4 linked regions of the Homo sapiens genome follow. The protein of the gene in region 4 interacts with the protein of the main gene of each other region in a pairwise test. Each region holds a gene or a part of one and is shown on either strand. Other genes may lie near its edges. The genes, in order: RBP3, TRIM35, ATP23 and MGAT5B.

What was found.
Region 1: the proteins of MGAT5B (region 4) and RBP3 interact in a two-hybrid assay, tested with the Homo sapiens proteins (one large-scale study listed by BioGRID).
Region 2: the proteins of MGAT5B (region 4) and TRIM35 interact in a two-hybrid assay, tested with the Homo sapiens proteins (one large-scale study listed by BioGRID).
Region 3: the proteins of MGAT5B (region 4) and ATP23 interact in a two-hybrid assay, tested with the Homo sapiens proteins (one large-scale study listed by BioGRID).

The regions. Positions count from the first base shown.
Region 1 is NC_000010.11:47,351,363-47,357,329, reverse strand, and holds part of RBP3 (retinol-binding protein 3 precursor), read right to left. Parts: coding exon 5,792-5,967; intron 4,006-5,791; coding exon 3,815-4,005; intron 1,955-3,814; coding exon 1,812-1,954; intron 229-1,811; coding exon 1-228.
Region 2 is NC_000008.11:27,303,349-27,309,315, forward strand, and holds part of TRIM35 (E3 ubiquitin-protein ligase TRIM35), read right to left. Parts: intron 1,496-5,967; exon of another isoform or gene 1,413-1,495; intron 1-1,412. UniProt on the Homo sapiens protein: E3 ubiquitin-protein ligase that participates in multiple biological processes including cell death, glucose metabolism, and in particular, the innate immune response.
Region 3 is NC_000012.12:57,947,777-57,953,743, reverse strand, and holds part of ATP23 (mitochondrial inner membrane protease ATP23 homolog), read right to left. Parts: intron 3,031-5,967; exon of another isoform or gene 2,860-3,030; intron 1,987-2,859; coding exon 1,849-1,986; intron 139-1,848; coding exon 55-138; intron 1-54.
Region 4 is NC_000017.11:76,898,306-76,904,272, reverse strand, and holds part of MGAT5B (alpha-1,6-mannosylglycoprotein 6-beta-N-acetylglucosaminyltransferase B), read right to left. Parts: intron 1,719-5,967; coding exon 1,603-1,718; intron 971-1,602; coding exon 897-970; intron 22-896; coding exon 1-21. UniProt on the Homo sapiens protein: Glycosyltransferase that acts on alpha-linked mannose of N-glycans and O-mannosyl glycans.

The sequences.
Region 1 (5,967 bases), on a different chromosome or scaffold from region 4:
AGGAGCTGCCATCCGAGGCCCCCACAGAACGGGCCGTGGGGATAGTGAGGTAGAGGTTGGTGTCATCCACGTGGTAGGTCTGTGGTGGCTGGCAGCCCCCACTGGTCACCTCCCCAATGACCAGGGCCCGGCCCAGCCTCTTCATGATATAGGTGAACTCCTCCGCGGTGCCGGCCGTCACACTGCTGGTCAGAATGACCATGCTCTTCTTGGAGCCATAGCGTTCACCTGGAAGACATAAGGCCCTTCAGGATGGGGGTCATGTCAGGACCCTGGAGCACCTGTCTTCTCTATCCTGCCTGGGCCTGCAGTGATGGAGGAGGCCCGGGGGTTTAGGTCTGTGTCCTTGTGTCCACTTGTGAGCCACTTGACTTCTCTGAGCCTTGATTTCTGCATCCGTAAAATGGGGACAAGAATGCATGCCCAATCACGAGGATTTCAGTGCTTGACAACTCCCAACGAGGCCTTTTTATGCCAAGTGATAGGAAAGGCTTGACTCTCCTGAGAAAGGAGCATCCTCTCTCTTCATGAATAATGAGAACACCTAAACCGACCTGACTTCCTTTTCACTTTGGACTCAGAAAAGCCCAATTTGTGATGTATAAGAACAACTCTCCAGGACAGCACTGTCCAACAGGAATGCAACGTGAGCCAGAATGCTGGCCATAGATGTCATTTTAGGTTCCCTAGTAGCCATGTTAAGCAAGCAAAAAGAAACCCATGGTGTTAATTTTAATCATGTTTTGTTTAAGCCAATGTATCCAAAATACATTCTTTTCAAAATGTAATCAAATAAAATTATTAATGAGGTTTTCTTTTCATAATGTCTTCAAAATCTGGTATGCACATTACACTTCCAGCACATCACACTTCCAGCACATCTCAACTTGGGAGAGCCACATTTCAAATGCTTGGTGGCCGCAGGTGGCTTGTGGCTCCCATATTGGACCTTGCGGTTTTGGGGCCTCATTATCTGCAGAATTGAGTCTATCTTTAACTTCCAGTCTTGAACATCTATTTGAATTTAGAATTCACCTGGTTCTGATTTGCATTTACACTTGTAATATTATTGAACGTATGTCCTAGGAGCTACAGCAAAATGCCTGTGTATTACAGAAGCATGGACATGAAAATGGTGGGGTGTTTCTCTGGTCACAGGCACACCCCCATCGGTCTCTCCAGTCCTTTCTTGTTGGGTAGGAGCACAAGTTCCTTGGTCTTACACACTGGGCAGGGAAGATAGATGGAGGCCATCCACCCTGGAATGGGGCTTTGAGAGTTATGGTTCTGTAAAGCTCAGGGCCTGCCTTTGCTCCTATAGCCACTGCTCTGGGCCCAGGGCGGGGAACAGAAGCCCGATCAGCATCATGACCTTTCCAGGCAAGTTTGTGGCACTGTGGCTTGAGAGCTCAAGTACTGTGAGCACTGGCAATGCCCACTGGGGTTGGTGAGGGGCGGGGAGAATCCTTCAAATTCTGCATTTGTCCTGCAGGCTGGTGATTATGGTGCTAAGCCTGGGGGAAATTTTGGTATTAGACAAACTAATATTCACATTTTGGGTTTCACTTATTAGCTGCATGACCCTAGAAAAGATATTTGACCTAGTCAACACCCCCTTTTTTTTCCTCTAGAAAACGGGCATAGTGATACATGCTTTTCAGGGATTCGAGATCATGCACATCTAGTGCCTGGACTAGGACAGGGCCTTACATTCTGGTTACTATGACTTTTACCTACACCCAAGCTGTCTTTCCCTGGTTTCCCAGAAGCTTCTAGAATGACAGCAGAAAGGAGAAAGCTTCTCCACGTACCTACAACCTGGGCGTGTGTCCAGAGTTCACTGACAGAGTCATCAGGCCGGCTGTAGATCTTGTCCAGCAGAACTGGAGGGCCTTCATCAAAGAAGTAGGAGCACAAGATGGGAATGGAGGATGTGGGGCCACCGATGTTGAACCTGAAGGATGGGAAGCAGAGCCTGTTCAGGGGCTGAGCTCACAGTGAGGCCCTGTGTGCCCCTCGGGGAGGCCAGGATCTTTGTCCCATGGAGGGTTCTAATTCTTGGCAGCCTCAGTCTAGTGCCTCTTCCTCCTTTAGAATTCCATGGGTTGGCATTTTCCAGAGTATTTCCAAGAGTACTAGTCTCTTTAGAACAAGAAACTTAGTGATCAAATATGTTATCCTTTCCTTCTGCTATGTAATTAATACATGTTAATATATTAAAGGCCCTGACAAGTCCTGCAGTCAGAAACTTGTTGATAAATTTCCCCCATTTATTGACCATGGACTGCTCCCCTGCACCCATATCTTCCTATGAGTGGAACACATTTTGGGAAACATTGTTTTTCCCGTTGCATTCTGTGACAATCTTATGACACCTACCAGCTGTCTTAGTTCAGGTGTCTTAACAGGGCACTTAGTGTATTGAAATATTCAGGCTTGTGGAGCTGCATTGGGAGCAGGGGAGCCTGTATTTCTCCCAGGCCATTTAGATTTGTCCCACTGTGTGACCTCGTTGGGCCCCTGTCTCCCCACTGGGGCTAGTGATGTGTTAAGGAGCCTCGTCCAACTGATGGCCTGGGATGGCCTGGCTGGGTTCGGGGCCTGTGATGTCAGTGTCTGAACCTCCAAACAAACCTCAGGGGTGGGAGGGTCTTTAAGCAAAGTGCACTTGCAGGCTGGGGCCATCTCCTCTTTAAAAAGTGTAAATGGCATATTCAGAAGAAAGAGACTTAGCATGAGTGTCATTTGGGTGCTCAACAGAACTTCTAAAGAATAAAATGATCAGAGAGACCCCAGGAGCCTCAAGCTCAGGCTGTGAACACACACAGAACTGGAGCCAGGGCTAATGTTTTATCTCCCAGGGAGGAGAAGCAGTGGGTGCAGGACCGAGAGCCACCTAGTGACCACTAAGAACCATGTGAGTGAGCGCTGAGGGCTAGAGAACTGGAGCTGGGTGAATGCTTCTGGTCTGCCACCCCCTGCCACTTCTTTCAGACAACACGGGAGCATGGAAGGGTCCCGTCTGAGGAAGGCAACCTGCCCAGGGAGGGTGCTGGGGCATGTCCACCAATGGACCCCAGAGTCATGGGATGCCAGGTCTGGCCACTGCCTGAGGGTACTCATCCACCTCCTACCCCTGGTCCATGAGGTAAACTCATGACATATGAGGCACATTTTTACAGAAACAGAGGGGAGGTGGCTAGCTGAAGACATCCTTCTGACAATCATTTGGTGATGCAAAGAATTCTTTTGTTAACAATAGTGATTAACTTCTAAATTTTCCCTGTGTGATTTCCAAATTCTGCCTGTACGATTCATATGACCAGGGTTGTCATGTGTTGATTTTGTATGATGTGAGGCACACTCCCAGGTGGGGGGCCTGGCTGTCTCACACACCACTGACCATCAGAATCACCTGGGATGCCTGTCAAATAGAGATTATCGGGCCTGTCCCCTGGAGCTTCTGAGTCAGTAAGAGGGGAGTGGGGCCCAGGAATCAGTGTTTTTAACATCTCCTTCCTCTCCTCCCCACTGAATCCTATGACCAGGCAAATCTGGGGTAATTCTCAATCTGGAATGCACATTGGAATCACTGGAGAAGCTTGCAAAAACTACCAGTGCTGGGCCCCACCTGCAATGACAGCAGATCTGCTGGGCTAGCTGGCCGAAGCCCTGATAGGCAGGAGGCCTGGCCCCCCTCAGGTCCTCTGCTGTGTCACAGGGTTCCTTTTCTTCCCTGCTGTGGCCCATAGCTTTGACTGTCCCCTGGCAGCCCTGCGTCCTGGCTAGGAAGCACTGACCCCTGGCCACTGACCTCATGTCGATGATCATGGCATCCGTGTGCATGATCTTCTTCCAGATGTGCTCCACCAGCAGCCTGGAGACCTGGGTGAGCAGCTCACCGTCCCCAAACATGTCAAACCTCAAGTAGCCAATGTTGTCCTCAAGCACGTTAGTGTGGAAGGAAAACTTGATCAGCTCTTCAAATACTTCAGGGGAAGGGATCTGTAAGAGTTGGAGGTCCTACTCAGTGTCAGGAGGAGCAGCCAGTTTTAGAGCCCAGGAAAGCAGGCGCCATGGGAAATATTAAGGGCATGGGACAGGAACTAACATTTCTGAAGGAATTAGTAGACACCAGGGACTTTCCCAGTGGCATGTCTGGATGTGACATGCCACTGGGACATGTGTGATCTATGGGCAGCCTCCTTGCAGAGGATGCTCCTGTCTGCCACCCACATGCCCTGGTGTCCTGAGCTAGAAGGCCCAGGAATGGACTCCCCTCTGACCTCTCCAACCTTACCAGATACTTCCTATGTCTCTAAGCTGCTCCACTGGGGCAGGATTGGAAGATGTTAGTTACCTTTACCAGGCACCTGGCCCGGTACTAAGCACTTTGTAGAGCTTATCATCATCCTCACAGCCACCTGTACAGGAGATAACACGATCCCCATCTTTTCCATGGAAAAACTGAAGCACAGAGAGATTAAGTAACTAGTCTCAGGTCACACAGTCAGTAAGTGGTGGAGCCAGAATCTGAATCCACATCTGACTCCAAATCGTGAACCTTGGCTATACTGGAAAGGAAGGAGATGTTGATTTGGAAACTGGGGATTCTGCAAGCCTAGCACAGGCTACTCGCACGTGGATGCACCTCCTCCTCCCTCTCTAAGGCTGCTGGAGGGAGGCAGGTCTTGGTGAGATTGACAGGCAAGGAGACTTCATTGACAGAGACACTGCCCTCCAGGCCCTGCCCTGCCCTCAGTCACAGCTCTCTGGCCTCAGGCCACTCCCCTCTGCTCCTCTCCGGGCCTCAGTTGCGGAAAATGGGGATAACAATTCTGTAGTAGATGCTTTTGGCACTCTCAGCCCCCTCTGCTTTCAGCTGCACCCGACCCCACTGACAGGCTCTCCTATAGCACAGCCCTGCCTTTCCACCCGTAGCTCAGGCCTTCTCCAAGAAGAGGGAGCCTGCCCCACCCTGAGGCATGTCTCAGGGCAACTCTTGGCCAATGCGGGACAGGAACCACTGGGCCCTGCCTGCAGAGGGCTATGCCTGGGAGCATCCCTGCACTCGTCAGGGTCCTGGCTTCAGCAGAACAGCTTTGAGGCACCTGCCTGTCAGCTTCCCAACCCACTCTCCCTGCTCCCTCCTTCATGCCTGCTTCAGTAACCGCCTCCCAGACAAAGCGCCTGCACCCAAGCCCTGGTCTCAGACCCTCCTTGCAAGGGATCCCATGGCAAATGCTGCCCTGCCCAATTGTGACGATGCAGCAGACCACAGGTAGAACAGTGTGGAGGTGTGAGTGCTGCCTAGGTGGAGCTCTCGGCCAGCGTGGGGCACTTGGTGAAGTCCATTGGCCACCTCTGACAGGTGTTGGCCTCTTCCCTAGCACTGACAATGAGAAGCCCTGCCAACACTCACCTTCCACCCAGCCAAGGCTGAAATGCCTTCTATCCCAGGAGCTTCCGAACTGGCTTCCTGTGAGTATTGGTTGGCTTTCAAACTGGCTTCCTGTGAGGTGGGTGCAAAAGTAATTGCGGGTTTTGCCATTGAAAGTACTTTTGCACCAACCTAATATGAATGTTCTACAGAGGTGTTCAGCAACCCCAGGGTCACAGAGAGTGGATGGAACAGGTTGAGAAAGAGGAAAGGACTTGACCGGTCAAAACTTAAACGTGAGAACAAATCTAAAAGCCATTGTCACGCACTGTGCACAGAGCCCTGCATGTGCGGACAATGGGTCAACTCACTCCCGGGACTGGGTTCAGCCAGGTCTCTCTTGGGTCTCACCTGCATGGGCACAATTCCAGGAATGCGGTCCTTGGCATTCTCAGGGATATGGGCTGCCTTCAGGTGTGGGTCTCCGGAGAGCATCTGCAGGTCAGCCCCCAGGATCTCGGCTAGGGCCACTTCTGAGGTCACCCTGGAGTAGCGGCTCTGCAGACCGCTCAGTTTGGTGGCCATCT
Region 2 (5,967 bases), on a different chromosome or scaffold from region 4:
TTTTAAAATTTACTACACATTTTTTATTCCATTTTCCCCTTCTGTGCATCTAGTGGTTCACCTAGGAAATATGACATGTAAGAAGTGTGAATTTGAATGCATCTAAACAATATTATTTTGTTTGCTTTTGGTATTAATTTTAACCCTAAATATGCTTAGATTACAAATAGAACTACCACTCAAGGGGCCTGCCTGTAGCCCAAGGAGCACATGAATGAGCAGAGATGGGCAGTAGCAGGGGCCCACAACAGATCTGGAGCATCCCCCAGCCCAAGCTCAGGAGAGCAAACAAGCTTCGATGTTAGCATCACATTATAACATTAAGATTTTTTATTTATTTATTTTATATTTTTTACTTTTTTGAGATAGAGTCTCATTCTTCTTGTCCAGGCTAGAGTGCAGTGGCGCAATCTCGGCTCACTGCAACCTCTGTCTCCCAGATTCAAGCAATTCTCTTGCCTCAGCCTCCCAAGTAGCTAGGATTACAAGTGCCTGCCGCCATGCCCAACTAATTTTTGTATTTTTAGTAGAGACAGGGTTTCACCATGTTGGCCAGGCTGGTCTTGAACTCCTGATCTCAGGTGATCCGCCCGCCTCGGCATCCCAAAATGCTGGGATTACAGGCATGAGCCACCGCGTCCAGCCTACGTTAAAGATTAGTTATAAACACACACAAAATAGGTTTTTATTCATACTAAAGGATCCAGAATGTGATCATATAGACTACATGATTTCCCAAAAATGACAAGTTGATTCCTTAAGCAACAAATTTCAATTGCATATTGAAGATCTTAAGCACTTTACAAAATCACGTTACCCACAATTTTCATTAACAGGACAGGTGCTCTGTGGTATAGCTGGAAGCAGGAAGGTAGGGGCAAGGGAAAGAATGAATTTCATTGCACAAGGTCTTCATAGCCTCTTTGCAAGGACTTACCAAAGTGCTAGAGTTGCATGTGAAACCAGCTCTGTCTGGCCTGAGCCAGGTTTTCTGTCTTGTGAGACTTGATACACACTGTTGCTCTGCCTGGTTCCCACCTGCTTCCCCCAACTAACCCAACATCACCTTGAAAACTCGGCTCTAGTACCCCTCATTTCCTCCAGGAAGCCCCCCGATCTTGCCAGCTCAGGTTCCATTCCAGGGCATCACAGCACCCTGGCCACCTCTGTCTCAGCACTCACTATCCAGGGTAATAGCTTCTCTTTCCTGAGGGCAGGTCTTAACCTCCAGGTCCTCTCTACCTTGCATAGTGGTGCTCGGTACACTTCTGCAGAAGGAATGCTTGCTCTGCAAGGTGAGAGACTTTGTTTTGTCCCCTGCATGTCCAAGTCCCTGCACAAAGTAGATGTTCAGTTAACCACCTGCCCAGTCAATGAGTACATGGAATGCCTGTGTTTTTTCTGCTATATACCTTGCCTCCTGGACTGAAGGTTAGGAGAGCTGGTTTGGAGCCTTGTCTTTGTCACTATCCACTGGTGAGTTGGTAAAAAGTTCCTTCTCTCTTCGGCTATCAGGCTCCTCACCTTAAAAATGAAAGCAGAGAAGTCTCTACAGTCTCCCAAATTTCACGATTTGTTTTCAGGCAGATTGATGTAGCAGCCAAGAGTTCTGGCACCTGGCCGACCAGGTTCAAATCCCAGCACCTCTACCTAGTAGCAGGTGATCTTGAACATGTTCCTTCACTTCTCTGCACCTCCATTTCCTCATCTGGATAAGAGGGATAAAAAATACTACCAAGCTCAAAGGACTGCTGTGAGGACTCCACAAATCAATCCCTATAAGATGCTTACATGAGAGTGGCAGGCACATGCTGTGCATTCGGCATAGCTCTTAAGTGCCACCTACATGCCAGGTAACCTAACTGTCCTGCTGGATATGGTCCAGGTTTCTTAAATGAACAGTAAAAATGCATGGAGCTTTCTTATGCAACTCCAAATCAGTCTCCCAGATCTGTCTTTCCCCTTTGTGTTCAGACCTCCTTCCAAAGCAAGTGTCTGCCATGCAGCCCACTGCTGGAGGCCATCACTCAGGAGCCTCAGTGTGCAGGGTCTAGTGAGACACCCCCCACTCCCAATACCACTGGGCACAGGCCTGGACAAGCAAGCAAGCAACAATGTCCTCTGGTGCAACCAAAGAGCTGGTAAGTCCTCACCTAGAAGCTGGGGATCAGGATGGGGGTGAGTGGTTAGGAAATGGGGAAAAGCATTGGAAGGGGGAAGACCTGGAATGTGGCTTAAGAGGTATCGAGAGTACCCTTGGGTTAGATCCAGCCAGATGGACTCTAAGATGTTGACGCCAGAAGGGGAGAGAGGGCTGGAGCTGGGACAGGGAGAGGCTGGTGGCAAAGAATGGTCATCATGCCAGTCCTGCAAGATGGATAAGACAAGGGTCTGCACAAGGCAGCTCAGCACAGGGCTGCTGTAGAAGATGCAAGCTGGAGAGTGCTGGACTGGGAGGCAGGAAACCTGAGTTCTGATCCTAGAACTTTATTTATTTATTTATGTAAGATACAGGGTCTCACACTGTTGCCCAGGCTGGATGCAGTGGCCCAGTCATAGCTCACTGCACCCTCGAATGCCTGGCCTCAAGCAATCCTCCCATCTCAGCCCCTCGAGTAGCTGGGACTACAGGTATGTGCCACCACACCCGGCTAATTTTTTTCTTCTTTGGTGCAGGATCTTGAACTACTGGCCTCAAGCAATCCTCCTGCCTCAGCCTCCCCAAGCACTGGGATTACAGGCATGAAACACACTGGCCTTGATCCACTTCTCATTACTTAGATGTAACCACCTCCTCACAAGATGTAACCATTCCATCACAATAGAATGACGCACGGTCTGTGTCTGAGGATGTTTTCATTTAATGGCAACCTAAACCAAACCTAAGACAATCCTACTCCAAGCCACGACATAAACAGCGCTGACACATGCTTTCAGTTCACAACTTCATCATCAGCATTCGTATTTTCTTTTTTTCTTTCTTTTTTTTTTTTTTGAGACAGTGTCTTGCTCTGTCGTACAGGCTGGAGGGCAGTGGCACGATCTCGGCTCACTGCAACCTCCATCTCCCGGGTTTAAGCGATTCTCCTGCCTCAGCCTCCCAAGTAGCTGGGACTACAGGTACCTGCCACCATGCCTGGTTAATTTTTGCATTTTTAGTAGAGATGGGGTTTCACCATACTGGCCAGGCTGGTCTCGAACTCCTGACCTCGTGATCTGCCTGCCTCGGCCTCCCAAAGTGCTGGGATTACAGGCATGAGCCACCACACCCGGCCACCATTCATATTTTCTTAACAGCTTACTTGATATCAAGACATGACTTTCATCGTCTTGTCCTGATAAGGAAAGAAGAGAAATACACATAGCAGGTAAAGAATGTGCCGGACCCAAATGAAGGCCAATCCCGTAACAAGAAAGCTCCAGAGCTCTTCAGAGAAATTTGGGCGGATTAAGTAGTCACTTGGAACAGAGTAATGGGAGAATCAGAAGTATCTTGGCCAGGAGTAGAGATTTTGTTCCAGCAAAATAAAACTTTAGAATTAATATTTTAAGTGGAATGTTATTGATTATAGTTTTGTATTCAGTCTGTTCACTTCCTTTTGTTTTATTGCTTATATGTAGCATGAGCAAGTGCTATTTATACCAGGTTTGCATTTGTATGCATGTAAATAATAACATAATTTAACTCTCACTGGCTAGACTATTTTTTCCTTTAAGAAGAATGCATACTTGTTCAAGTTTGAGAAACGCCAGACTAGGATTTCTGAAGGTCCTTCCAAGCACTGTTCCTTGCTACAGCTCTGCTGTAAACATGATGCCAGGCTCCCAAATCTCATCAGTCCTTCCATCATGCGCCACTGCACCTACGATAAAAATCCCAGCTCCTAAGCAGGGCCCTCTGTGTCCTGTGGGATCTGTCCTGCAGTTCCTCATCCCCACGTGAACCATCTCTCAGTCACTGCACACCCCCACGCTGTGCCCCGCCGCCACACCCCCGCCACACACACACACTGCTCGCCGCCCCTCAATCAGCTCCTCTCAGCGAAATCACTTCCTTGGAGACTCCTTCCCACACCCCACCAAACAAGAGCAGCCTCCCCCTTACAATCTCCCACCACATCCTGTACTGTCCTTCACAGGAATGTTGAGCTGAAACTATGTAATTATTAGTGAGATGATACAACCATGCCCACAAAGGCAAGGTCTAGGACTGTCCGGTCCTGTCCTGGACACAGTACTGGCACACAACCAGTACCTTCTGCCAGCCCTGACAATGGTCAACAGCCACTCCAACCCCTAACACACAGTCAGCTGCCCGCTGAAGTCTGAGATGAGAGAAACCTCTCTCAAAGTCCAGGACCAGTGTGTGAACTGAACAAGGCTCCAGGTGATCTTTAGAGCTACTTGCTCTGTGACTTTGGACAAGTTTCTTACCCTCTCTATGATTCTATAATTGTCTATAAAATGGGGATAATAGCACCTAACTGTAGCAAGCTGAATAATTATTTCCCCGAAAAGATGTCCCCATTCTAATCCCCAGAATCTTGTATGGCAAAAGGGACTGTGCAGATGATTAAATTAAGGATCTTGCTGTGGGGAGGTTATCCTGGATTACCTGGGTGGGCCCAATGTCATCACAGGGTCCTTATGAGAGGGAGGTAGTAGAACTGGTCAAAGAAGTCAAAGTGACAACAGATGCAGAACGGAATGACACACTTCAGAGCTGGAAGAAGGGGCCTCTGCAAGCTGGAGAAGGCAAGGAAATAAATTCTCCCTGGAGCCTCCAAAAGGAATGTAGCCCTGCAGACACCTCGATTTTAGGACTTCCAACCTCCAGAACCATAAGAGAACAAACTTGTGCTATTTTAAACCACCACATTTATTACGCAGTAACAGGAAACACAGGACCTGAAAATACGTTTTTGTGAGCATTAAATTTGTTGACGTGTGAACACTGAAAAGCATCTAGCACACAGTGAGCACTGAAATGTGTTAGCTGGGATGATTTTGACTTTGCTGTTCCTCACATAGATAGTTGGCAAAGTAATCTTTCTCTAAAACACACATCCCATCACAAACTCCCCTGTTTAGAATCTTTCAGAGCTCCCCACAGCACAAAACGGAAAACCCCCTCAGTGAGGCACACAGCTTCTTACCCAGTCCCTTCTTACCAAGTGGTGGAGGGAATCTTCCCATACCGCTCCCCCACAACCACCTACCTTGAATCACACAGAACTACATCTTGTCTATTGACTGTCTATGCCCCCTGCTCAAATGAGAATTCCATGAAGCTAAGAAGAGGCCACAGCACACAACAGCCATCAGTACCCATTTGTCTAGTAAATGAGTGATTTGCACCCTGCATCAGGCTGACCACACCTGGCTCTCATTCTTCTCAGATCCATTTGGGACTAGACTACTCAGCCCCTGACATCATCCTGAGTGTCCACTGACTTGACACCATCATTCTTCTGCTAAAACCCCCAGCTGCTGTTCACAGCAAGGGTGAGCCACCGGCCTCCTGGATCCTCCTGCACGTCCCTCCTCATTCTAACTACCCTTAAATTCCCTCAGTGCCTAGAAAGTCAGGCTTTCCCACTTCTGGACCCTTCCAAATGCTGCTGCCTCTATCTGAAATACCCTCTTTCACCTGGCTAACACCTCCTCTTCCCTCGGGTCTCTGCTGGAAGCTCCTTGAGGCTGGAAATGGTCTATCTTGTCTCCTGCAGTATCCCTGGGACCTTGCAGTACCAGGCATCTGCTGGTGCATGGCTCTCTGCTCTTGAATCCTGGCTTGGCCCCAGCCTGGGGGCTCTGCCTGGGTGTTCTCAGCCCTGACCCCAGCATCTCCTGATCAGCACCTCGGCCAGCCAAATAGGCATCAGTCATGACCTGAACCATGATCCCTCCTTTACCTGGGCCCCAGACCCCTGGCTGGCCAGCACTTATTCCAGCTGTCCCAAATCA
Region 3 (5,967 bases), on a different chromosome or scaffold from region 4:
ATTATTTCCACTCGTAACACTCTGGAGGGGAAGTGATTTCATATTAGTTTTTACCTGGTGGTGTTGTTTTAATCCAAAATGTAACCTGAATATTTCATTGACAAGTGAGCAGTCTCCACTAAGGTTAGCAGCTCGAACCTATCACACAGAAGACAAATAAAAAGAAATAAACGCTCATGCTCTATATATCTTTATGATATCAACCAATTTTTAAAAATTAGAAAAGAATATAAAATTAGCATCTTTGTCTGAGAAAAGAGTATTTGTGACACTTCTTCTTAAAGGACTTTTTAAACTCTATTGACAACGAGAGCAAATATCTATGAGCTATGCTAGACAATGCCAAATACACTGGAGAGATGGGGAAAAGTTCAATCGCCTACCAAAGGAAATTTTCTAAACTTTATGCGTAGCTTTACTGACAGAACTAATTTCTTTTGGAACCAAAAGTCAGAGAGCTAGACCTCAGAGTTAAACTACACACTCTACAAGATACAAATACTTGTAGAAATTGCCAAAAGTACTTCAAGAAAGCATTCTTGAAATAAACTGAGTTTCAATGTGACCTTAAAACTGAATGCATTAATATCTGAGACACTTTGAGAATATGCCCCTCCCAACCCTTGCCCGAATCTCCCTTGGAGCTTCCCTCAAACCTATATAAGTTCATGACCTTCCTCTAGGGACTTGATTGTCCTATGAAAAATGAAGCAATACAAAACACAAAGAATCAAGAACATTCCAAACTGGTCACGCTATGAGCATGACAGCCTGAAATTAGGACATATTTTCAGATTTACTATACTTCAATGAATGAAAAAGTCTTAGAACTACCCACATAGATTCTACAGGCAGCTTGACCACATTTTTGCTAATTCATTGCTAACAGAATGGCCCACTTCTTGTTCCTTCTTCAATATTATGGCCTCATTCCTCTGAGGAGCTCAAAGTACTTAACACACTTTAACTAGCTAAAAGGCATTAATTCTCACAGTACCCAAGAAAGAGACCTATTTAAAAATTCAGGTTTCAGTCTATTCTCCAAATAATTGGAATTATAATTAGATGCAGGGGGCTACATATTAATTTCAAGAGAAAGGGAAATAATCGAAGTTATATAGTATAGGCTTGAGATTTAGATTATTTTAATTAACTCTTCAATTAATGACATCCAAGTATATGCATATGCAGAATACGCTCTCTCTAGGAGCATATTCCAAGAGCAATCCAACGTGCTTAGTAATAAATATCTTTTTATGTTGTATTTTTGAAAAGAGCATGTTTTACTCTAGGGCAAGCAAGGAGCTCTATGGAAGGCAGCTGGGCAAGCTAGTTAAAAACACTAGTTGTAATCCTGCCTCTACCACTTACTAACTTTGGAATCTAAACAACTGTCTCACTTTCCACATATGTAAAACAGGGACAATAATAGTATAATATCTATCTCAGTAGGTTATTGTGAAGATTAAATAAGAATCTGTGCAAACAGAACAGTGTTTGGAACACAGCCCTCAGTAAATTTTAATTATTTTTTTATTTTTATTTTTATTATTAATGTCTCCTATGGAATACATTATAAAATATATTCCATAGGAAAAAATTAATAGCTTATTAAAGTCAGTCATCACTATTACTAGGACTTACAGGATATAGTTAAGAGAATTCTAAAAATACACTTTAAATTTCTCTAACTGTATATCAAAAATGGTATTCAATGTTAGTTATAAACCGAAATTCAAGACTAAGGTAGAACTATGACAGTAAGAAAAGGAATACATTTAAATAAATTACACTTGAATAAAATATTCAAGCATAGAGTATTCTGGAGAAAAATACAATAAAACTCACCTCTGAGCACGCCAAATGTCTGATGTTGGTGAACCAGTCGACATGGGCACGACAATGATCAAATGCATGAATAAGCTCGTGTGTGACCACTCTGTTCATATGGGCCTGATTATGGATATTATTCTGGCACAAAACTATCTAGGAGACACCAAAATAAAAGAAGTTCAGTGATTCTAAAATCTCCTTCCATAGACTCGATCTTCTCTCCCACATGACCTCACCTCTCCCCCACAAGCTCACCTGCCTGGAATATCTCTACCCACTCTTCTTCATTGGCCACACATCTACCCATGGGACAAGTCCTAGTCCTAAGTGTACATGCTCCAATTGCCTCGCCCAGTGACTAACTTCTCCCTTCTCCTCTCTCTGGACTACAGCAGTACTTAGATTAAGGACACGTATTCACACACCATCCTTACTGGGCTGATCGTACTAGTCTGTCTCGGACTCCACAGCATTATGGTTAAGAGAGTGGGCTTTGGAATGAAGCACACAGATTCAAATTCCAGCTCCACCCCTTACTAACTCAGTGACCTTAGGCAAGTTTCTTAATCTCTCTGTACCTCAATTTCCTCAACTATAAAAAGGAGATAATTAGGGTAGCTACCTCATAGAACTGTGAGAATTAAATGAGAATATATGTAAAATACTTCTTATCAAGTTTCTGAATGAGCATTGAATGAAAAAGGAATGACCACCACTGTCCTCATTTTACTAGAATGAGGGCAAATGCCAGGGAAAACTCATCAGAAAGACCTTCAGAAAGAAGTGCAAAACACAACAGCACACTGAGCAGGACCCTATAAGAATAAGAAAGACACAAGGGATCCTAATAGTAATAGCTGCCATTGATTGTGTACTACTGCCAGACACTGGGATATGTGCCAGATATTTATATACATTCATTCAACATCCATTGATTCAACTAATACTTATTGAGACCTAATAATAGATTATAATCTACTGATGGAGATAGAAACTAACCAAATATTTACCAAAATGTTTACATACATGCAATGACAGTTGTCATGAAGAAAAACCCAGGTTGTCATGAGCATATACAATGAGGTTGGGTGCAGTGGCTCATGCCTATAATCCCAGTACTTTGAGAGGCTGAGGCAGGCAGATTCCTTGAGCCCAGGAGTTCGGGACCAGCCTGGGCAACAGAGCAAAACCCCATCTCTATAAAAAAATAAAATAAAAATTAGCCAGGCATGGTGGCACATGCCTATAGTCCCAGCTACTTGGAAGGCTGAGGTAGGAGGATCACTTGAGCCCAGGAGGTTGGTGCTGCAGTGAGCCAGGAACACGCCACTGAACTCCAGCCTGGGCAAGAAAGGGAGACCCTGTGTCAAAAAAAAAAAAAAGAAAAAGAAAGAATGCCTGACCTACTCTGGAGGTGGGGGAAGGTTTCTCTGTGGAAGGAATGGTTAAACTGGTATCTAATGGAGGAATAGAAGTGAAATTTGAGGTGTGGAGGGGAAGGGAGTATTCTAGGCAGAGAGAAAAACCTATGCAAAGCGTAGAGGGAGGGTTGACGGAAGAAAATGCTTGAGAAGCTAAAAGGAGAGCCCTAGAGTTGAAGCACAGCGGTGGGGGTGGTAGGCAACAGATACGGCTGGTGAGGTCGGGGGGCCAAATCCCTGAAGACCTTGTCTTTACCCTAAGAGCAATGGGAAGCTCTCAGGATAAAGGGAATGTTGAAACAGAAGACTGCTTTTGTTTTATTTTGCTTTTATCCTTTTAACTATAGTTGGAAGAATAGGCAGGAGATGGCCAAAACTGGATGCAGAGAAATTAGCTGAAGGCTAATATTCTAGGCAAGAGAGAACAGCACTTCAGCTAGAATGGTGGTGGAAGCCAAAAGAGTTATTTAGGAGGTAAATTAGACAAAATATGTTGATAGAATACGGGGAAGGAATCAGGGGTATCAAAGATGATCCATAAATTTCTGGCTTGGCTAATAGGGTCGATGGTAGCACCATCCACTGAGATATGCAAAACTAAAAGACTGGGTTGAGTGGGGAGATGGGGGATGGTAAAAATCATGAATTTGGACTTACACATTTCAAGTCTGAAGTGTCCTTAAGACCCTTAAGTAGGTGGGGAGCAGTGGCTCTCACTTGTAATCCCAGCACTTTGGGAGGCTGAAATGGAAGGATCATTTGAGGCCAGGAGTTTAAGACCAGCCTGGGCAACATAGTGAGACCTCATCTCTACAAAAAATTTTAAAAGTTAGCTGGGTCCAGTGATGCACTCCTGTAGTCCCAACTACTCAGGAGGCTGAGATGGGAGGATTGCTTGAGCCCAGGAGTTCAAGGCTGTAGTGAGCCATGATTGCGCCACTGCACTCCAGCCTAGGCGACAGAGCAAGACCCTGTCCCAAAAAAACTTTTTTTCCTTAAAAATAAAAATAAATAAATAAATAAAAAGATGCTCAAGTAGAGGTGTTAAATGGGCACTTGGATATATGGAATGTGGAGTTCTTAAAAGTGAGCTTTGACCCCAGAAAATTGATGAGACCTCCTTGGCAGAGTAAGAAAAGAAGGGGCTCTATGACCAAGGATTGAGGGACTTTGACATTTAAATGCTAGTAGAGGAAGGTAAGCTAGCAAAGGAGCAACCAGAAGAGTGCTGTATACTAGAAACCAAAGAAAGTGTTTGGCATTAACAGCTGAAGTCAAGTGTATACAAACTATATGACCCAGTAATTCTGCTCTTGAGCATATACCTTAGAGAAACTCTTGCACATGTGCACCAGTAGCGAAGGTCAAAAATATTCATAGCAGCATTGTTCATAATAACAAAGTTGGAAACAATCAATATTAGAGTAAACTATAGTATAAACACACAACGGAATAAATACCATATAACAGGGAAACGAAATAAACCAGAGAGGTACACACAACAACAAGAAAGAATCTCACAAATGCTGAAGGTGGAAAGTAATTGGAGACTATATACTGTACAATTTCATAATACTACAAAATGCTACATAAAATTCAAAGTATAACATGTATAAAGCTCAAAAGCAGGCAACTAAATAACACACTGTTGGATTGTATATGTAGATGGTAAAGCCATTCAGAAAAGCAGGGAATGGTTACCACAAAAGTCAGGATAAGGAAGGGAAAAGGACCTGATTCAAGAGGACCACGAAGGCTTCTGAAGTCCTAGTAATGTTCTTTTTCTCTAGTCTGGGTGGTGGTTACATAGGTGTGCACTTTATTATTACTGAAAGTGTACATATAGATGTTTTACTCTTCTGTATGAATGAGATACTTCATAATAAAAATTTTCATTTAAAAAAATAGGCCAGGCACAGTGGCTCACGCCTGTAATCCTAGCAGTTTGGGAGGCCAAGATGGGTGGATCACCTGAGGTCAGGGGTTCAAGACCAGCCTGGCCAATATGGTGAAACCCTGACTCTACTAAAAATACAAAAATTAGCTGGGCATGGTGGCACATGCCTGCAATCCCAGCTACTCAGGAGGCTGAGGCAGGAGAATCACTTGAACCCAGGAGGCAGAGGTTGCAGTGAGCCCATATTGCACCACTGCATTCCAGCCTGGGTGACAGAGTAAGACTCTGTCTCAAAAATAATAATAATTTAAAAAATAATAATAAAATAAAAGGAGAGGGTGCCCAACTGTGTTCAACACTGCTGAGAATTAGGATGAAAGTTCAAGATGTGCACTCTGTTTAACCCTGGGGGGACCGAGAAGGGAGTGAACTTATCCAGAGCCATTTTGAGAGCTATAGGTATTGTGATTACCAGTTTACAAATGAGGAAACTGAGAAGAAGAAAAATAACTTGCCCAAGCCCCACAGATAATAAGCAAGGAAACTAGGATTTGAACTCAAGTCTGACTCCAAAATCTAGACTTCTCATCCTTGTTCTATATTGCCACTTCACATGATTACTGTAAAAATGCTATAAATAACCTAAATACATACAAAATTATCCAGCAGGAAACAGTTAAGTGTAGTTAAGTATGAATTATACATTCAAGTGGGAAACAGTTACTTATAACACCATCATTTACCCTGATCACATGACATTATCTACCACCTCCAAGACTCTGTCGAAACTCTCTGATGACTTAAAACTAATAATAA
Region 4 (5,967 bases):
GGTCCAGCGGGCACGCATCCACTGCAGAGAGGGCCAGGCTGGGCAGGGGGCTGCGCCAGCCCCACTGACCCTCGGGGACTCCCCCGCACGTGCACCCCCAGGGGTCCTGAGGTCAAGGATGGGGCCCATGTGGCCCACCCTACTGATGCAACAGGGGACAGGGCAGAGAAGAGATTGAACCAGGACCCGCCTGAAGGACCCCAGAGATGGCAGGGGCAGGACCACCAGCCCTCATGTCTGGAAAGAGGAGAGACTGGGAGAGAACACTGGCTCAAAGGTCTGGGGCAAAGAGCCAGGAGGCCTGGCTGTCTCCCTCTCCCTCTGGTCCCCGTCTCCCTGCTACCAGAGCAGGATTGGGCTAGAGGCCAAGGTCAGGGAGCAGCCTCCAAGGCGGCCAGGGCTGGAGCCAGGGCGGGATCCACCTGCAGTGATCCCAGATGGTCACCAAGGAAGGGGTCTGCGGCACCACCGCCCACCCCTTAGGGCGTTCAGAACCAGTGGGGAGCTGACTTCACGGCTGTGGACGACTCCTACAAGGGCAGACTTCATGCAGCCAGTGGTGGCCCCAGAAATGGGGCAGGAAGACTCTCCGTCCAGCTGTTGGCTGGGCCAGGAGGAGCAGGGACAGGGCAGCCAGGGCCACTCCTCTGAGTCTCTGGGGGAATCCGGCTGCTGGCGGTGACACTTGGAGATTTAATCATTTGCTGTGAGAAAGCACCGACACCTGAGGGAGACTCTTTCTGGGGGATTTGGATTGATGGGTGGGGTGGATGCACTGAGCAGAGAAGCTGTTTCCCTGAGGTTGGCCTCTGCCAGCTTGTGCCTGGGTGAGGGGCCAGGGCCAGACAGAGAGGCCCTAGCTGTAGACATCCCCACCCCTCAGCCCCAGGCCTCACCTCCACCTTCCCTGAGCAGTCAGGGAACTTGGGGTCACTGGGTGCCTCACACTGGTCCCGCCGGCCTTCTGACACTGTAGGGAGAGGTCACCTTGCTGAAGTCCCTGGTCCAAGGAGGAGCCCAGGGAGGGAGGCCTGCGTGCGGGAGGCAGCTTCCCACACAATCCGCTGCCAGGCTTTCCCACCTTAAAGCTCATCAGCCGCACAACCCACCCACAAGGTCAACCCGGGCCTAGGTTGCCCCCGGCCTCCTCAGGGGGTTCAGATGCAGTGAGGAGCTGGTGCGAACAGCCACTCAGCAGCTGCCTGGATGGGCAGACCTCATGCACCCACCCGAAAGCATCCCCAGCGTTTTCTGAGGAGGCAGAAATGAGGTTTGCAGCCCCCAGCTCGCTGCTCCCCACATCACAGGGACTGGAGGGGCCGCCGAGGGACCCTTCCCCAGGTGGCCTCACTCCTGGAACTGTGGACCCCAGAAGCTGAGACTCCAGGGACCTCCTCTGTCCTCAGCGCCCTCCTGCCGGGTCGAGGGAGTGAACCCCCAGTTGTCCTGCTGAAAGCCTAAACTGGGGCCCCGAAGAGCCAGCAGAGCTGCTGTCAGGAGAAGTCGGCCACACCCCAAGTGTCCCACCCTCCCAGGGCCCACCCAGCACCCAGTTCATTGGCCCCCTAGGGGTAGAGGGTACCCCCGCCCCCTGGCACCCACCCTTGCTGTGCAGGAGCAGACTGTGGCGCAGGATCTGGTCCACCTTCACAGCGATGTCGGAGACGTTCTGGGCAATAGCCTGGATCCGCTCCATGAGGCCGGCCCCAGGGGGCATCCTAAGTGGGAAAAGCCAGAGGTGAGCCACAGAACCGGCCGGGGTGACCTTCCCATGAGGGTCCTGCCAGTAAGGCCCACAGGCAAAGGCGGCAGGCTCTGCAATGCCCCAGGCTCCCAAACCCTGACCCCAAGCAGACCAAATGGTGGGGAGTGAATCGGGTGAGAAGATGGAGCTGGCAGCCCACCCCATCCAGTACACACATTACAGACATACGGGAAAGCCCATATCTGCACATGTTGGTCACAACTGCATGTTGTGCCCACAACTGCATGTGTGATCATATCTGCAGAGAGCCCTTTAGTGGACATCCCCCACCCCTCGGCCCCAGGCCTCATGTCCACCTTCCCTGAGCAGTCAGAGAACATGTCTTCATGTGGCCACAACTGCACGTGTGCCCACAACTGTACAGGTGCCCACATCTGCACATGTCCCCACATATGCACACGTGCCCACAACTGCATGTGCGCCCACAACTGCACACATACCCATAACTGCACATGTAATCATATTTGCATGTGTGGCCACAACTGTACATGTGCCCACATCTGCATGTGTGCCCACAATGGCACGTGTGCCCATATCTGCACATGTGACCCTATCTGCACGTGTCAGGCATGTCCGTGCATTACTGCATGTGTGCTGAAGGGCAGTGCATGGGGCTGAAACAGGCAGAGGAATTCCATTCAAGAGCCTGGCTAGGTTCTGTCCAGGGGTCACACAGGTGACAGAGGCCTTTTCCTAGGCACAGCCGGGCCTCTCCGAGTCTGTCTCTATTTCCTCCCAAGAGGCCATATTGTGCCAAAATAAATTCTACCCGCAGAAGCCTGGGAACTTGCCAGGTATTAAAACTCCGGTAAATTATCACTGGCTTCCTGAGAACAAATCCTTCCCAGGATCTTAAAGGAGGTGACTGCCACCACCACAGCCCTCCACCTCACCATCGATACCAGTGTTGCTTTTATTTTTGGAGGATTTATTTCCTGTGTTGATTACTACTCAGCTCTCAGGGACATTTATTAGCCGTCATATGCAGTATTTATCTCATTGCAAACTTCTATTGAGATGGATTCCCCTCAGCTGGCAGATCTTCTCACACAAAGATAGCCCTGGGGGTCTTTCTCCAGGAAGCTGCTTGCCTTTTTTTTTTTTTAACACATTAATTCGGTTTCCTTTGATTCTCACCTCACCCCGTGGCTTTGCAGGCCCAGTTTAAGCTCCGTTTATCCCTATACAAGGTACTGGTCTTTATGGCTGCACATAATGGGAATTCGATGAAGGATTTTTCCAACCTGGGCTCCGTTCGGGTCTGCAAACCCCACCTCTCCTCCTCTTCTGAGCCTAGTGAGCTGTCCACTAGAGAAGGCATAGCAGGAACCCTCAATGGCCACCCGCCCTCTACAGCCATCACACTCTCCCACCTCCACCTTTCCTAAGGAAAGAAAGGGCAGTGGCCCCATACACATCGGGGGACTAGTCAGGGTGACAGGTGGGAGCAAAGCAGACACCGAAGTGGAGGGGACAAAAGGCAGATGACAGGAATGGGGAACAAGCCCCCCATGTACACACATGCACACACACATGCACACAGGCGTGCACACGCACACACTCACACACAAACACGCACGCACACATGTACACACGCACACACACACATGCACACACATGCACACACACGCACACATGCACACACAATCCAGTCTGTCCTCTCACTCTAGTTCAGTGCCCAAGGCAAACTTTGACAAAAACAAACAAACATAAAACTCTTAAAATAAAAAATGCCACCATTTTTGTGTTAGTTTCCTGGGGTGACTGCAATAATTTCCACAAACCAGGTGGCTTAAAACCACACCCATTTCTCCTCTGGCAGCTCTGGAGGCTGGAAATCAGACAGCGAGGTGGCAGCAGGGCCGGCGCCTTTAGACTCTAGGGGAGCCTCCCCCAGGCCTCCCTCCCAGCTTCCAGAGGTAGCAGCAGCCCTCAGTGTTCCTCAGCCCGTGGCTGCTCCACCCCGACCTCTGCCTCCGCCTTCACACGGCCTTCTCCCCTGTGTGTGTCTGTGTCCACTTTCCTCTCTTTATAAGAACACCAGCCATGGAACCAGGGCCCATCCAAATCCAGTAGCACCTCCTCTTAATTTGATTACATCTGCAAAGAGCTTATATCCAAATGAGGTCATAGTCACAGGTCCTGGGGCTAGGACTTGGACATGGCTTTTTGGAGCACAAAGTTGAATGCACGACAGCCTTCTGTGAGATTACAAAGAAAGAGAAGAGACGTAAAAGCTACCTGCTTCATTTGCTCAAAAAGTCCTCAGGAAGAAGGAAGTAGGAGTATTTTTCATCTATCCAAAACTCATCAAGGTTCATTACCAGTATGATACAAGGAGATGAGAGGAAGCTCAGACCCCTATGAGCTATGTGACCCTGGGCAGGTCACCGAGCCTCTCTGTGCTCACCAGTCTCATCTTTTAAGACATAAGGGCAGCTACCATGGTGAGGACTGAATGAAGAGAGCTGTAAAGTGCGTGGCCAGCGGCACCTGTGTGACATCAGCACTGTTTGCATTCGTGATCAGCACTGATATTGATGTGGTTGAAGCAGCAGCCACAGGGACTTGGGTTAGACCAGGGCACATCAACCTTTTCTCATTATTGCCCGTCTAGGAGGTTTCTTACAGCTAAGATTGTTTCAAGAACCAGTGTTCTCCCTTTTGGCAGTGATGTGCTCCCACCGAGAATGCCTGGGTTCCCTCCAAGAAGAAACATGCCGATTTGATGTCTGCCAGGCTCTGACATCAGTCCAGATGAAGCCCGTGGAGCTGCTTTCCATGCTGACCTACAGGGGCAAGATGGACACTCCTTTGACAGGAATGAATATTTTTTTATATACACAGAGAGAGAGAGGGAGAGAGAGAAGGGCTCTCACTCTGCCACCCTGGACAGAGGCTGGAGTGCAGTGGCGCAATCATGGCTCACTGCAGTCTCAACCTCCCGGGCTCAAGCCATCATCCCACTTCAGTTTCCCAAGTAGCTGGGACAATAGGCATGAGCCACCACGTCCGGCTAATTTTTTTTTAATTTTCTGTAGAAAATATATTGCCCAGGCTGGTCTCCAACTCCTGGGCTCAAGTGATCCTCCCGCCTCAGTCTCTGAAAGTGCTGGGATTACAGGTGTGAGCCACCATACCCAGCCTGGAATGAATATTTCAAGGACAGAGTGCAGAGGCAGGGAAACCTCCACTGCTGCAGGCTCAGAGCTGGAGACGAGCCGGGCTCTAAGGCTCCCATCATGACAGGAGGCACGCAAAATGGAGAAAAACTGGGCGCCTGTCCTACCTTCTAACCAGAGACCCCAGGGCACAAACAACCTATGTCAAGACAAGCCAAGCCAGGGGTCCTGCCAGGTCAACTAGAGACTTTGGAACGGACCTCAACCCGTTTCAGCCCTTCCTGGAGGCACCTCTCCCTGGAGCGAGGCTCCTCTCCATCCGTCTTGCAAGAGCCAGGTCACTTTCTGAACCCCCTGACCCACGGTGGGTGTGGTTGTGAGTGGCCAGCCTGAAACCCCGAATGGAGTCCTGAGTCCTCCAGGACAGGGACTTGGCTTTCCTGTGTGGAACCAGATGCTGGCCAGCGTGGGCCCTGTGCTCGGGGCTCCATCACTTAGGCTGAAGAGTGTCTCCAAAATTCATATCCAGCTGGAACTTCAGAATGTGGCCTTATGTGAGGGATAAAAGACTACACATAGGGTGCAGTGTATACTGCTCGGGTGATGTGTGCACCAAAATCTCACAGATCACCACTAAAGAACTTACTCATGTAACCAAATACCACCTGTACCCCAATAACCTATGGACATAAAAAAAATACTAAGCTACTGCTATGTGCAATGACATAGACGAATCTCAGAGTCAGAATGTTGAGCATGATAAGCCAAATAAAAAAGATTATGGGCCGGGCACAGTGGCTCACGCCTGTAATCCCAGCACTTTGGGAGGCCAAGGAGGGTGGATCACCTGAGGTCAGGAGTTTGAGACCAGCCTGGCCAAAAAAAAAAAATTAGCCGGGTGTGGTGGTGCGCGCCTGTAATCCCAGCTACTCAGGAGGCTGAGGCAGGAGAATCGCTTGAACCCGGGAGGCAGAGGTTGCAGTGAGCCGAGATCGCGTCACTGCACTCCAGCCTGGTGACAGAGCAAGACTCTGTCTCAAAAAAAAAAAAAAATAAAAAGATTATGTACTCTGTGACTCC